Linked DNA regions of Homo sapiens: region 1 is linked to region 2. The links come from fine-mapping of genetic effects on gene expression. Tissue or cell type: whole blood. Region 2 holds a variant in brackets; the other region holds the start of a gene. All regions are shown on one strand. Distances are from middle to middle.

Evidence for each region. PIP is the estimated chance that this variant, and not a neighbour inherited with it, causes the effect.
Region 1: NEO1 starts here. The variant in region 2 is fine-mapped to the expression of NEO1 in whole blood (INTERVAL, PIP 0.96).

The regions. Positions count from the first base shown.
Region 1 is chr15:73,050,172-73,055,319 of GRCh38, reverse strand. It overlaps NEO1 (neogenin 1), which reads right to left and starts at 2,857. Exons shown (of 29, transcript NM_002499.4): 1 at 2,515-2,857. The coding sequence starts at 2,644. RefSeq lists silencers at 2,538-2,917, 3,148-3,467, 3,558-3,627, 3,688-3,737.
Region 2 is chr15:72,971,997-72,977,144 of GRCh38, reverse strand. No RefSeq gene overlaps it. Among named protein-coding and RNA genes, the nearest start is that of NEO1, 78 kb to the left of the region's middle. The variant T/A (reference allele first, on the strand shown) is at 2,157.

The DNA.
Region 1 (5,148 bases), 78 kb before region 2:
TGTAAGGCAATGAATCACATCATGAAATAAATGGTTCAGGCAGAAGCTACAGAGTCCTCGGTGAAGAATGTTCACTCTAAATAGAGAAGACATGCATTGCACAGGCTGCTGCCATGTCATCTTCCCCAAGGTCTCTACATATCTTTTCAGTAATCTGCCCTTTTTCAGAATACCAGATTATGTTCCTACTCAATTCCAACCCTCCTCCCTTGCTGACCATTTTCTATCACCAGTCCTTTACTTCTTACTTTTTCCTCCACCTCCGTATGTCTATAACCTCAGATGGAAAAACACTTTCCATTTATCCTATTGTCCCACATCTCTATTTTTCTCCACCTTCTACTACTGAACATGTCCACTTCCCTACAATCTATTCACTATAATCCCCTATAAAAAGATTTATAAGTCTATCACTCTACAAAAATAAAAAAAATAAAACTACTGACAAAGGACATCTGATTTGCGGACAGCTTGTTCCAGTTGCTGCTTACTCAGTTCTCCAGTCTCTTGATCTCTTCCGCAGTTTTATGGCAGAACTGACCAACCCCTCCTTATTGCAGTTATTCCTCTCGCTTTTGTAATGAAGCAGAGCGGTTTACAGGAAGGACTCTGGACCGAGAATCAGGAGATCTATGTTCTAGACCCAATTAAACGACTAATTACCTGTGAGCCTCCCCACCTCCACTCCTACCCACTCCTCAGATCTCAGTTCTTGTGAGACACTCTTAACACCCAGACTAGGTTATGTCACTCCAGTACCCACTTTGTGAAAACCTATTCTCCTTTGTAGTGCTTATCACAATTACTTAATTATATAATCAGTAGATGGATGGCTATCTTTCCTACCCACACACCAGACTGTAAACTCCATGAAGGCAGAGAGCATATGCCTTGCACCTCATCTGTGCAAAATAAAAACCTGTCAATTGAGTTAATGTTGAAACAGATGTTAAGACCACTTCCTGAGACTGCTTGCATTATTTTTATTATCCTAAGTAATAAAATTACTAGCATTTTAGTTACTTACAAAATTATCGGCAAAACTTTAAACAAAAACTTGAAATTTGGTGAACTACATATGAATTTCCATATAAAATAGATCATGAGTAACAGGAACTTGTTTTCCAAAATAGTTATATTTCTCTTGCTCATCTAAGAGACAGTTGGATCAGTAACCTGCATTTCAGCACCAAAATGTGTTCTAAACCATATACGGACTGAATGTATAAGGGTACATCATGACATAAGTGATGTTTAATTTGACATTAAAACACTATTGTTTACGTAGCTGTTTAGAGAATACCGAGTGGTACTTTACGTTTAAAGCTGTTCTTTAACATTGGCAAAAGCCATGAGCTACATACACACTCTGCAAGGAAATGAAAAGTTTATCAGTCAAGTTACCTTGCAGTGTGATTTTAAATATTATTTCATATAAATCAGGGAAAAACAAGTACTGGTTCAGCGGTAAGACTGCTTTCAAATGTAAAAATATCATATCTCACACGAGTGAAAGTTTTGTCAAGTTTTATGGTACACCACCTTGGTCAAATAATTTTAACAGATTACATGCTAATTTGCCTTTCAACTGCTGAGTGTATCCTGCTCAACAATACCGTAAGGTCCTTCCCGGAAGGCTTGGCATTTTTGTTCGTTGGTCCCCTTAATAGGAATGCAGGTGGTTTCAGTAATCTATAATATTCCAAAAAAGAACTGAAAATGGCTTTTGAGGTTCAATGTTTATACAATGCCATCTGAAAACATTGTACAAGTACCTAAAATCTGATGCTTAGACAATTCCCTTGGTTAAGAGTGGTTAATAGGCTGTAAATATAGTTGTAATCCCCAGGAAAGAAGAGGCATTTCATAACGGAAACACTAACAGATACGATCACTCCGAGCCGCTCTCCAAGGCGTCCTCATCGTTAAATCAACACCAGGGGTTGTGAGCGGGCAATTGTGCCCCTCTGACACCCCCGCTCTTCCGCAGACTCGGGCTCCAATCCCCGCGCGAGGAGTCCCTCGAGACTAGCCAGCTCTTCCTCGAGACTTCGGAAGCTGGGAAATCCCTGGCCAGGGAACCAGGAGCTCAAGCCCCCTCCCCTTTCCTTTCCTGAAAATTAATGAATTGGCCGTCTGATTGTTTATTTAATGAGGTGTGTAGTGGCCTCTACTGGTGCTAGTGTGAGCACAAGAATGTCCCACTCTTACAAGTGGGATGAGCCTGGGGGAGGGGAGAGAGGCGAGGGGTGAACCTGCCTCCAGGTACAAAGCTGGGAACTAGACCCCTGCGCCCCCGACCTGCCCCCCGGCAGCCGCCCCTTCCCCGGTGGCGCCCCCTCTCGCCCTTCTCCTCCCCACCACGCGCGATCCCCTTTCTCTTCGGCAACCGGAGCCGAGGCAGAGAAGTTCCTGCACGTTTCCTCCTGGATCCTAAACAAAAACACCGCAGCCGCGGCCGCCTGAGCCGGTGCCGCGCCCCCGCGAACCCCCGGGCCCGCGCCCGCCGCTTACCTGGGGACTGCGGCGCGGAGCCGCTCCTGGCGGCCGCGGCGCCCGGCGCCCGGCGCCCGAGCAGCAGCAGGCAGTAGAGCCAGAAGGAGGGGGTGCTGAGGAGTCGCCGGGCTCCCCGCTCCGCCGCCATCTCTTCCCCGAGAGTGAGCGGCAGCGGCGGCGACAGCGCCGCGGAGCCCTTGCCTCCTTCCCTCCCGCGCGCCTCAGCCGGTCCCTCGCTGCAAGCTCGGCTCCCGCGGCCGCCGCTGCTCCAGCCCAGCCCGGCCCGGCCCGGCCCGCGCAGCCCCTCTCGCTGGAGGGGAGACTCCAGGGCGCCTCCCTCCTGCAAGGGGGCGGGGAGGGGAGGAGAGCGAAGAAGGGGAGTCAGTACATTCCGGGGCGGGGGGGGGGGGGCGGTGGGTCGGTCTCCAGGTTCCAGGCGCCGCCACCCGCCGCCGACTCCGGCTCCACACACCAGCGCGAGGGGGGCGGAGACCGCGGACGGCGGGGGCGGGGGCGGGGGCGGGGGGCGGGAGTCCCGGGCGCGCACACGCGCACGCGCGCGCCTCGCCCGCACCCCCTCGGCTCCGCGCGCGGCCCGCCCCCGCTCCAATCCCGGCTGCCGCCTCTCGGGCCGTGGCGGGCCCGCTCCCCTCCCCCTTCTCCCCGGAGCCGCTGACGGGTGCGGGGCGCGCGCGCCGGGCGCTGCTGCTGGCGTCAGGGAAACCCCGGAGAAGCGGATCCTCCTGCTCCTCCCGCCCGCTCGCCGCAGCCCCTCGGCTCCGCGCGCCCCCGCCTCCTCCTCCTCGCCTCGGGGACAAATTCCCCCCTCACCTCCCCAGATGCCTCTGGCTGCAGAGACCTGAGGGCGAGAGGCGCTCCGAGCTCAGGCTGGTCCGGGAGGCCGGCGTGGGCGCGCACCTCTGCACAGTCCGGGCCTGGAGCCTCTATATAGGGCCTCAGAGGAAACCGAAAGGCCTCCGGGAGGAAACCTGGGTGCGCAGTGGGTCGGCCCGGGGATTTATGTGCTCGCCAAAAACAATAGCGATCCCGCCCGACTCTTGCTGGGCCCTGGCGCGGCTCCCGTGGGAGGGGGCCGGCCGCGCAGCCGCTGACCTCCGGCTCCCAAGCCGGGCCGCCGTCGCCGCGCGCTTCCCCCGGGCAGCGCCGGGACCCGCCCGAACCGCGCCCCCACCCGCATCGCTCGGCCCGGGTCCAGGGAACTAGGCACAGACAAAGGTGCCCGCTGTCCACTTCCTCAGCTCGTGCGGGGGCCCCGACCGAGCCCTGGGACTCCCCGGGGCCAGTCTTCTCGCAGTAACTGCTACGTTTTACCTGTACCTTTGCGGGACACTTGGCGTTTTCCTACCTGGGAATCACGTCTTTCGCTGATAAACCAAGGAGCAAGTGGGATATGATTTTAAACCACTTAGTAATCGTGAGGCAGCACCCAGGCTACACAAAGTTAGGAGAAAGCAGTTTGTAGTTCCACTGCTGATGAGACTATTGATCATTTTATATACTGCACCCATGAAAAATTTTTAAAGAAAATTTATTTGTATGATTATGCAAGCAGAGTCACGTTTGGTGGTTGATAGGCGTTGGGTTTTATTCACTCTTCTGTGTAGTCGATAACCGAAATGTCTTGCTTCCCACAAGAAAATGGCTATTTCACTAACATATCCCTCTGTGCTTTCTCATAGTTACTTTCCAAAGATATTTTATTCTAAAGCGCCAAAATGAACAATGTAAGACATGGATTAACGTCGGGAGGGAAGAGCTCAGAATCTTCATAAAACCTTAAATCATCAAAACGGTGAAATTAGGAATTCTCATGCTAGTTCTTTGAAACAATTGACTTAATAGAGGAAACACATGCTTATGGTTTTTCACTAGGGAAACCATTTAAATACCTTTTTGTTTTGGTTAGAGTTGTTAACCAGCAAAAATATTTCCTAAATACCCGTGATTGACCTGTTAAATTAGAAATAGATTACCTCCCAATTACTTCACAAGTATTTGCTTAATTAACCTTTAATAATCACATCATTATTCAGTTTTCTGAGATAATTAATGAGAAAAGCTCTTTGAAAACTGTAAATTGCCTTGCAAATGTTAATTTCCTGATATCTTTTCTAAGTCTGGAAAAATTTCATTATATTAAACCTATAACGTGTAATATGACTTCTGAGATGAAGCTTACATTTATCTCCAAGTTTTGAAAAATACATGAGTTGTGGCTAATAACAGACTGATTTTCATATATGACTTATATGAACTGTCTCACTAATTTATCAGCCCACTGTGTATATCAGGTTAATATCAAAAAGTTTAAAACAGTTGTATATTTCTGGCTTCTGATTAAATCACAATTTTAATAAAACCCACTCTATTAAACCACTAGTAGATGGAGCCCCAGATTAAAGCTACAGATCCTAAATCAGTTCAAGATAGTTAAGTAACTCAGGCACACACTTGAATTCAGCTCCTTTACTTTGTTTCAAAGTCACTGACACTGTCGACATGCCCTTTAAAAATCATCATTGAGTAATTAACCTGTTCTTTGTTTAGTAAAGCATATCTGAGAAAAGATTTTCTTAGGCATCTCTTTTATCATTCTTATTCTCCCAACAAGATTTTCAACAAATACTTCAG
Region 2 (5,148 bases):
ATCCTAAACAGCTGCTTTGTCCCAAGCATGTCTGATCAGTTGAACCAGTCAGTATAGGCTAGCTTATATTGTGATAAAAATGATCCTCAAATCTTGGCCGCTTATAGCAAACTAGGTTTATTTGGTAATGCTACTCATCCAGTGGGGGTCAGAAGGGCTCACCTCTGTGCTCCTTACTCTGAGACCCAGGTTGACAGAGTAGCAGCCATTTCAAACATTACCAGTTGTCATGTCAAAGGGACAGAGAGAGATCATGGTCAGCAGAGGAGTGTCTTGCCCAGCAATTAAATACTTGGGCATAGAAATAACTTCTGTCACTTCTACTCACAATTCGTTGGCAAAGCTAGCAGATGGCTCCACCCAAACCCAATGGGATCAGGAAAGGCAATTTTACCATGAGCCTGGAGAACCGAGAATATTTAGTGAATAGCACTAATAATCACTGCACTTACTGTCTTCTACTAATTCCTGATATGAATGGAGGCTGTGTGCCCACCAGGGCCACTTTTGTATGTCCTAGGAATGATCTGAGCTGATCCAAATGCTAGTGTCAGGTAGAAGCAAATGGCAGCCCTGCATCATCACCATGTTGGCTCCTGACAGGCCTGGTTCATCCTGAGCTGCTCACTGTAAAGAAAGTCCCCGGGAAATGGCAAGGAATTGATATGCCTTTGAACTCCTGCAAACCTGGGTATGAGCCTCTGGAAATCAGCCTTATACTTGACAAGTTCTGTTCCAATATGGCTCAAAGGTTGCAAATTTGCGTGGTTCCTATCCAGGTGGGCTATGAGGGTATTTGCATGGCCCATTGATACCAAGACACTGAAGTGAAGCTGGCAGAGCTATGGGACTCATGCCAGCTACATCTAATTATCAGCAGGAAATAAAAACATGAACATAAGGTGAGCAACAATACCAAGCTCTCATGTATGCCTCCCCTCCAACCCTTGCCACCCGCCTTAAACTCCACAGGTAAGACTCCAAGCATCCTATAGGTGAAAGGTTCCACCAGCACTCCCCATTACCCTGCTGCTGTTGTGGGTGCTTGGCAGATACAACCACCTGGACTACGACCATTTGAAGCAGGTGGTGTATTGGGCCTATGGAACCAGAGTCTGTCTCACAAATTTGGAATGGGATGGATTTTAACCAAAATCTCCTTGCATTTTGGTGAGAAGCCAGAAACACTCTCTGGCTCAGAGAGGAAATTTAGGTGGTAGGTAAAAGGCTCTAGTACAGCTGGTTAATTCCTTTCCCTATGTTTCTTATAGGTGGACACAAGGCCCACCTGACTGGGTCCCCAAGCGCCATGTTTCATGATGGCATTCAAAGGGGGGTTGTGCCCATCTCTATACCCCTCCTTGCATTCTCTCTGCAGTTGCCTGCTTGGGTGGAAAAATAAAGAAGCTACTATACTCCTGCCACTGCTTCTCCTCATACACCTAGTGAGGCAACCCTAGTCCCAGCTTGGGCTGGATAGCAGATGCAGCCAATAGCCAGTGATGCTTTTGAGTGTGTGGCTGCAGTACTGGTCAGTTTACTGTGGCTCACTCGTCAGATGCAAGTGGCTGGTCTGTCCCTGTCCCAGAGCCCTCGCTGCTTGATATTATCTGCTTGAGTGGGTCTCCCTCATTCCTGACAACTCTTGAGTAGACTACTGACAGCTTGTGTGAGAAGACTCACCTCTGTGTCCCCCATCAGGCGTGGGCAAGCAAGTTGTGAAATCACCCAGCTGCAGCCTACAATTCTCTACAGTTGCAAGGAATCCTGGGTAGCAGGACTGTTGTTCCAGGGCAGGTGTGAGCAGTAGTGGTGCTGCAACTAGAGCCATCATGGTCAGTGGGCAAGGATGGTGGCACAAGGTGAGCAGCTGGGCTCTGGCCTCACTGCTGTCCTTAGCTGGTGAAGACCTCTCTGCATGGAGGATTCTCTGCTTTCTTCCTCCTCAGGATCAAGACTGAGTACCTTCAAAACGGAGGATAGATCTTCTTTATCATGCAACCAGTAGGACAGCCCTGGAAGTGTGGGTTCCTACCTACATGGCTTAAGCATCATGTAGATAGGCCACACTACACCGGTGTGAGGTGCAGCTCTGGACTCTGCATGGGTGGCTTCTAAAACAACTGAATGGAAATGTTTTCTGAGTTACTCAAATT[T/A]ATCTAGATTTTCCCATTGGTAAATGCAAAACCTATATTGCATTGAAGCAGGGCCAATATCTTGGCTGGCAAATGGATTTTAAAATATCTTTGAAGAAGTGAACACAGAGGGCCCAGGGAAGGTTGAGGGGTAACTCCGTTTCCTCCTGTAGAATCTACCTTGAGGTCTGAGGGACACTGGCCACAAAGCACTTTCATATTCTGGCTGTGTGGCCTAAGATTTCCCAGGGATAAGTGATATAAAGGTGACCAATTGATCAATGGAGGAAATTTCTCTTTATAGAAGCAGTCTAGCTAATAAATGAAGAGAATGATAGAATGTCACTATTTTATAACACTTAATGATATACATGAAATAGATTTAGACAATGGCACTCAAAGGCTGGTAATATCACACACACAAAATTGACATTATATGCTCTCTGATGAAAGAACACACCACTACCTATAAAGCATTATTGTAAAAAAAAAAAAAAAATCAAACCTGAATTCAACAAATCTCGTCATCTAATTACCAATTAAAAAACAGGGACAGAGGAATGTGTTAAAAAAATACCACAGGGACTGGTGATCCGCAAAATTTAGGCTATGGGAAACTATAGTTCAATAACTTAGTTTATTTAATAAATTTTGAAAGCAAAAGAAAACCTATATGAAGAAAAGACTTAAAGCCACATAAACTGATTATAATGTATGGACATTATTTGGATCCTGACTTGAACTAATGTAAAAATAAATGGAGACACTGAGGACATTTTAACACTGGCCAGATATTTGGAGACATTAGGAATTATTCTTATTGTTAGGTATAATAATGGAATTGTTATATCCAAAAGAGTCCTTATCTTTTGGAGCTATATGCTAAACTAATTACAGATTACATGATATCTGAAATTTGCTTCAAGATCGTCCAGGTAGAGCAAGAGGTAAGGAGTGAAGGTAAAAGCAGCTGGGCATGTAATTGAAATAAGTCTATTTGGGAGGCCGAGGAGGGCGGATCACCTGAGGTCCGGAGTTCGAGACCAGCCTGGCCAACGTGGTGAAACCCCATCTCTACTAAAATACAAAAATTAGCCAGGCGTGGTGGTGTGTGCCTGTAATCCCAGCTACTCAGGAGGCTGAGGCAGGAGAATCATTTGAACCTGGGAGGTGGAGGTTGCAGTGAGCTGAGATCACACCATTGCACTCCAGCCTGTGTGACAGAGCGAGACTTCATCTCAAAAAAAGTGTGGCTGTGAGTTGACCATTGTTGGAGTTGGGTGATGGGTAAAGGGGGCATCATATTATTCTCTCTACTTTTGTATATGCTTGAAATTTTCCAGAAGAAGAGGAGGAGGAAGTGTGTGGAGAGAGAGAGAGAGAAAGAGAATATAAATCGGATTGTAAGGCAGGCGGTCAGGCAGAGGAGACTGGCAGCAGGGGTGGAGTAGAGGGCTGTGAACTGATGAGAAGATCAAGGGGTCAGACTCCAGGGGTCAGTGTCTGGGGCCTTCCATGCATAAGACTCACCTGATTGGAAGTTCTCCTCCCACCTTTTCCTGGACTGTACCCCCAAACCAATATGTCTCAGAGTCTGAACAGTAAGAGGCTGCCACCAGCACTTCTGATTCAAAATAAGAATAACTAACTACCTGTCCCCCTGGAAATTACCAGCATGCTTCTCCTTCTCAGGTGGGGAATGTCTGGTTCTTCCTTTGACCAAGGGCAGTATTTCTAGTACTGTGTTCTCAGAAGAATCAGTCACAGGCCAAGCATGGTGTCTCACGCCTGTAATCCCAGCACTTTGGGAGGCTGAGGCAGGTGGATCACCTGAGGTCGGGAGTTCGAGACCAGCCTGGCCAACGTGGCAAAACCCCGTCTCTACTAAAAATACAAAAGTTAGCCAGGTGTGGTGGTGTGTGCTTGTAATCCCAACTACTTGGGAGGCTGAGGCAGGAGAATCACTTGAACCCAGGAGATGGGGGTTGCAGTGAGCTGAGATCACACCACTACACTCCAGCCTGGGTGACAGAGCGAGCCTCTGTCTCAAAAAAATAAAAAATAAAATAAATAAATAAAAAAAATTAGTCATATATCCAGAAAGATTCTCAGTAGGACTGAGGGCAGCTCAGGCCCCTTAATAAAAACTATTTGAAATGCAGGGAATTGTGAGAAGGAAAATCAAAGCCTAAGACTGAACCAGCAATTAGATCAGCTCCTGGAATATATTTAAGTCAAATCAATCCATGAGGGAATTTCCGTCACAGCTCACTTTCCCTCTCCTACAGCCCATGGCTGGAATCATAGCCTTTCAATCAGAGCTCACCAGAAATACAGCAATATCCATCTTCTAAAATGCTTCATCATAGTTTTGCAAAGTCCCGGTACATCCCCTCTGCTCTTGTGGATTTATTTACATATTGATTTATTTATTCCTCTCTCTACAGCAGGCTAGCCTCTTGAGATTATACCATTTCATTTACAAAGCCATTGGGGTCATGCATCTGGACAACGAAGCCAAGGGGAAGGCTGTCCTTGGATGTGCTGAGCTACACAGATCAGACTTGTCAGAAACAAGTGTGGGAAGTGGGTGCAAAGAGTCAGCCTCCAGCCTGGGACTCCCATAGTCATCTTACCACAAAAAGAGAGGGCTGGCTTACACCGAAGGGAAGAAAACAGCATGGGAGGTGACAGAAAAAGCAGCAAGGAAGCCCTGGGTGTGACCTCTATGAATCCCTCCAGTTGAGGAGTGGGGTCTCCCTACTGCAATCCCAAATGGTGCAGTGCCCCTATCAGCAGGCAGTTACCTTCATCTCTTTCCAGGGCCTGAACAGTACAGACCCCTCGGGCTCCCCACAGATTACTTCTCAGCCGGAGGAGGCTCCGCTAAGAGAGAAGAGAAAGAAGAAGAAAGAAAAAAGAATGCACAGGAAAAAGGTCTGGAAGAAACTGAGTTGAGGGAGAGAAATCTGTTCCCTGGCAAAGGCCCCAGGCTGCAAGAAAAGCCTTCCAA